2 separate regions of the Homo sapiens genome follow, and region 2 is linked to region 1. Evidence: fine-mapped expression QTL. A gene starts in region 1. The other region holds a variant in brackets. All regions are shown on one strand. Distances are from middle to middle.

The links. PIP is the estimated chance that this variant, and not a neighbour inherited with it, causes the effect.
Region 2: its variant is fine-mapped to the expression of GTF3C5 in whole blood (TOPMed, PIP above 0.99).

Annotation. Positions count from the first base shown.
Region 1 is chr9:133,029,441-133,032,447 of GRCh38, forward strand. It overlaps GTF3C5 (general transcription factor IIIC subunit 5), which reads left to right and starts at 1,557. Exons shown (of 11, transcript NM_012087.4): 1 at 1,557-1,724. The coding sequence starts at 1,572. It overlaps LOC105376306 (a long non-coding RNA gene), which reads right to left and starts at 982. Exons shown (of 2, transcript NR_135119.1): 1 at 710-982. RefSeq lists enhancers at 738-987, 1,222-1,873, 1,318-1,577.
Region 2 is chr9:133,050,382-133,052,881 of GRCh38, forward strand. GTF3C5 (general transcription factor IIIC subunit 5) reads left to right here. Exons shown (of 11, transcript NM_012087.4): 4 at 402-597; 5 at 1,679-1,783. It overlaps MIR6877 (microRNA 6877), which reads left to right and starts at 1,615; the gene lies at 1,615-1,678. The variant G/T (reference allele first, on the strand shown) is at 1,529.

The DNA of each region.
Region 1 (3,007 bases):
TGGGCTCAACTGATCCTCCCGCCTCAGCCTCCCAAAGTGCTGGGATTACAGGCGTGAGCCACTGTGCTGGGCCATGATTCTCATCTCCCAATATTCTCAAACCCAGTCCCTTCATCTCTTGACTGGATTATGCAGTCTCGGAGCTGGTTTATCTGAACTCACTTTCTCCCCCTTTGATCTGTTCTCCACACAACAGCCAGAGAGGTCTTTCAAATGCATGAATGGGATCACTGCTCCGCATAAAACCCTTCAAGGGGCCAGGCGCGGTGGCTCACGCCTGTAATCCCAGGACTTGGGGAGGCCGAAGCAGGCGGATCATTTGAGGTCAAGAGTTCAAGACCAGCCTGGCCAACATGGTGAAACCTCGTCTCTACTAAAAATACAAAAATTAACCGGGCATGGTGGCAGGCGCCTGTAATCCCAGCTATTCGGGAGGCTGAGGCACGAGAATAGCTTGAACCCGAGGCGGAGGTTGCAGTGAGCCGAGAAAGCGCCACTGCATTCTAGCCTGGGCGACACAGCGAGATTCCTTCTCAAAAAAAGAAACCTTCAGGGGCTCTCCACGGCACTGGGAAGCAGCCAGCCCGACGGGTGGACCCTTTTCGTGGGTGCGGGTCTCTGACCTCGGTCGGCCTCGGACCTCATCTCCTCCCTGTTTGAGGGGCCACACTCCTCGCTCCGGGGCTTTGCAGCAGCCCTGGGCGCCTACCGGACAGACGCCGTTCTCCCCGCCTGGGTCTTGAGTAGGGCCCAGCACACAGTAGGCGCTTAATGTCTGCCTGCCTAACAGACGAACGCCGGATGCCCGCGTTCGGCCCCGAGCCGGCGCTTCGGGGCTTTCTGTGGAGGCGGGGCGATGGTTACAGCACAGTTCCCCCGCGCTCGCCTTTTCCACATCCACCTCCGCGAGGCCCCCCGCAAGCGCCGTTGGAAACCTAGTCCCGAGGGGGCTGCAAGAGCTTGGGAGAAGAAGCGCCAACACCGACAGAATACCAGGCCGACCCAATGCGGAAATCAATTCTCAGCCGGGACCTTTTCCCCACCAAGCAGGCGGGCCGGAAGTCTGCCTCTGGCCCGCCCCCGAGGTGTCATTGGGTGGAATACCCAGAAGAGGGCTGGGACGTGGTTAACTCTAGTTCTTTATTGGTTAAAACGTACGAAGCTGGAGGAGAAGGTGGGACCTAGCTTCCTCCGGACTTCTCATTGGCTCAAAAAAAAACTCGCTCGGCCCTCGGATTCTCATTGGCTGAAGTCGAGGGAGGTTTGTGTCTTATTATCCTCCGGGTCCCTCGCTGGCTAGTAGGAGAGACTGGTGCTTGCCCCGCCCGGTGGACTAACTCGCTTAATTTTAAATAAAAAGTCGAGGACACGGCGGTCGTTTTCCCGAAGACATGGGCCCTCCCATGGGCCATTTGCTCCCTGGAGGCCCTCGCGTCTTGCTGAGCCCGGGGAGTTAGGATGACGCGAGCGGTGAGGGAGCCCGGAACGATTCCTTCGCGGAACAATTGAGGCGAGGCCTTTGGGAGTACTTTGTGGGACGGACCCTGGCGGGCCCTGCCAGACGCACAGGGATGGCGGCGGAGGCGGCCGATTTGGGGCTGGGGGCCGCCGTCCCCGTGGAGCTGAGGCGGGAGCGACGCATGGTGTGCGTGGAGTACCCGGGAGTGGTGCGTGATGTGGCTAAGATGCTGCCGACTCTGGGCGGCGAGGAAGGCGTCTCCCGGGTAAGGGGCTGGGAATCTCGGTGTTGGAATAAGAGCTCGGAGTCGCAAAGAAAACGAGCACTCAAAGGATTTCTCAGCAAGGGAAATTTAGCAAATTTACTTACGCAGAAGGGTGCTGCTCGCTCTTCTGGCCGCTGCAAGAGAGCCAACAGAACAAAGAAGGGAAGGATTTTTGTTTTTGTTTTTGTTTTTTTGTTGGTTTTTCAGGCGGAGTTTCGCTCTTGTTTCCCAGGCTGGTGTGCGGTGGTGCGATTTTGGCTCACTGCAACCTCCGCCTCCAGGGTTCAAGCGATTCTCCTGCCTCAGCCTCCAGAGTAGCTGGGATTACAGGCGCATGCCACCACGCCCGGCTAAATTTGTATTTTTTAGTAGAGAGGGGGTTTCACCATGTTGGTCAGGCTTGTTGGAAATAAATTTTGGGTGCCGCAAAGAAGAATCAGCACTCTGGCAAACAGTTTTCTCAGCAAGGCAAATTTCCTTCTATAGAAGGGTGCATCTTGCGGATGGAGCAATGGCGAGAGCACACCGACAAGGAAGGGGAAGGGGTTCCTATCTCTTACACAGCTAGTCTCTACTGCTGTGTCTTTCCCATATTGGCTAGGGTTGGACCGCACAGTCTAAGCTAATTCCGATTGGTTATTTCAAAGAGGGCAGGGGCACAGGCCTGAGTGGCGGGGTGAGTAGTTTTGGTGGGAAGGATGGTTACAGAGCAGGTGACTCAGGATGACTAAGGACAGAGCAGGTGATAGAAGCTAGGAAGGGGTTGTTTACTGAAACTAGGGGCAAGGAGGCGTAAAGAACGAGGGGTTAAACTTTAAAATGGAGAACAAAGAACAGGGAAGCTGAACATACTGACATATTGGTTCTTTGAAATGGAACTCATAACTCATTGTATTTATTAATTTTCCCCCTCTTGAATTTAAAGGAAGGTAAAAGGCTAAAATCTTTGAAGTGGAATTTACTGTGTCCTATAGGCTGGTCTTGAACTCCTGAGCTCAGGTGATCCACCCGTCTTGGCCTCCCAAAGTGCTGGGATTATAGGCGTGAGCCACCGTGCCCAGCCTGGAATGGGTTTTTATCCCTAAGGCAGTCAGTCCCTGTTTTTGTGTCCTGTCCCTGCTGGTTGGAGTTGGACCACACAATCTAAGCTAATCTCAATTGGCTATTTTAAATAGAACAGGGGTGTGGGTTACAGTGACGGGACGAGCGATTTCGGTGGGAAGACTAGTTTCGGCGGGAAGGGCAGTTAAACAGAGCGGGTAACTAAGGGCAAGGAGGCACAA
Region 2 (2,500 bases), 21 kb after region 1:
TTCACCATTGCCAGCTGCTGGACATTAGACTCTGTCCAGTTTTTCACTGGCTGGACAGTGCTGTGCCTGACTCAGTGCACTTTTGGGGCCACCAGCCCCATGACAGGTGCCCTTTCCTGCACTCCAGCCTCTAGGACCTTTTGGCCTTTCCCCAGTTTGAGAGCTGCAGGCCCCAGGGTTTCTCTGAGTTGTCATAGGCAGTTGTGGCTGCGTCTCTTCCTCTGTGAATACAGGTTCCTTTAGCAGCCAACTCTGGGGTCCTTTCCCAGCACAGATGTCCAGAGAGAGGCACACGGTGGCTGTGGGCCTTGGGGGGTTCTGGGCTCCCTGCCTGGTCTGGCCCAGCGGGTGCCTGGGATGGCCTTGGTGCTCCTGTTCTCACCTGTACTCTCTGCCCCCAGGGAAGGCTACAACAATCCCCCCATCTCAGGTGAGAATCTGATTGGCCTGAGCAGAGCCCGGCGCCCCCACAATGCCATCTTTGTCAACTTTGAGGATGAGGAGGTGCCCAAGCAGCCACTGGAGGCTGCAGCCCAGACGTGGAGGAGAGTCTGCACTAACCCCGTGGACCGGAAGGTGGAGGAGGAGCTGAGGAAGGCAAGTCCTGCGCTGCGCCTGGCCCCGGTGGCTCCAGCCTCTCTGTTGGCTTCCCGTGTTTACCCAGCTGCTCCCTGTTCCTGGCTGTGGGGTTGGCTGCACTGACCTTTACCCATTCCTTAGTGCATGGGAACTTCTCACCTTCAGATGCCATGTCTAAAGGCTGTGTCGGTATAAGTTCTACATTCCCAAGGTTGAAAATGCTTCTTAGAGTTCTTAAGAAAAATATGCGTGCGTTGTTCAGATGTGACATAAACGTGGAGCTCTGGGATCCACTGAGCTCTTATTCTTCCATTCACTCATTGCAGCCAAGCCAGTGGGGCACCTAGTGTGCCAGGCCCAGCACTTTCTTACCGTTAGAACTGGAACCGTGCTGCCAGGCAGCCCTCCTTCCCCGGGCTTGCGGGTGCCGTGGAGTCCTGCGTCCCCACTGGCATGAGCATCAGGTTCACAGGCCACTGCCACCTGGAGCCCGGCGCTTCCCTTACGCAGTGTGCCTGTGGGAGACCACGTGGATGTCTTGTTGATTTCCAGCAGTCACTGGGGCACACTGTCAGTGGCTCCTTATTGCCCACCAGGCACAGCCCACATTCCTGACCTGAATTGGCTCGTGAGGCCCGCTGCCCCAGCCCCCTGGCCCTCTACACTCCGGCCACACTGACCTTTGCAGTCCTCCCCGGGCCAGGCTGTCCCCTTCAGCCCTGACGATGTCCCACCTCAGGCACCTGTTCTGTAGATTGGGGCAGCATGGGGACCCTGGGACTCTAGCATGTGCCCCCTGAGCCGTACTCCCCACCGCGCTGTGGGCTCTATGAGGACAGCGACCATGTCTCTTATCGTTTGAGAGACCCAGCCCCACAACTGCACTTGGCACAGGCTGGGCATGCAGCCCAGGCTTCTGAGGGAAGGGATGAATTAGTGAGAGCAGGAG[G/T]TCCTAGGGCCACGCCCTGTGTGTCCAGCCCCTGTCCTCTACCAGCTCCTCTCTGGAGGGGCCGCTGGGGCCCAGAACATGTTGGGAGTTCAGGGCCGAAGGGTGGAAGCTGCTGGTGCTCATCTCAGCCTCTGCCCTTGGCCTCCCCAGCTGTTTGACATCCGTCCCATCTGGTCCCGAAATGCTGTCAAGGCCAACATCAGCGTCCACCCAGACAAGCTCAAGGTCTTGCTTCCCTTCATAGCCTATTACATGGTAAGTGTCAGCTGCCCACCCACCTGCCTTGGTTTCCACCCATGTGGTCCCTGGTCCCTGCTGTGATGTCTTAGAGCCACAGTAAGAGCAGCCAACCCCCTATCCTGGCTCCCCATCCTTCCTGCCCCACCCCCATCCTGGCCCATCCTTCCTACCCACCCCTGGCCTGGCCCTCATCCTTCCTGCCCTGCCCCCAACCTAGCACCTCCCCCGTCCTGGCACCCCCATCCTTCCTTCCCCCCTGTCCTGGCCCCCCGATCCTAGCATCCCTAAGACAGCTTATTAAAGCCAGCTAGAAAAGTTTCAGCTCCCTGAGTCCAGGGCGCCCTCCACAGCCTGTTGGGCTGCAGAACCCAGCCCCTGACCACAGCGGCCCCATGTCGTCCTCTACCTGTGTTGAGTGGGGTTCAGTGGGAGGCAGATCCACCTTTGATCCACAAGCATGTAAAGACACATGTCATTACTGAGGTTCCAAAGGTGCTGGTTGGAAAGGGATCCTCCCCGCTGCCAGGCCTCACAGAGCATTAGGGGAGGCCAGCGTAAGACATGACTGTGAGGGTCTGCAACAGGCAGTAGGACACAAGAAAGACTCATTTCTTCTGCCTTGTTGGACTTCCGGCTCAGGAGAGCGACCTGTGCTGCTTGGCGTTGGCATTTTATTTTATTTTATTTATTTTATTTATTTTGAGATGGAGTCTCACTCTGTCTCCCAGGCTG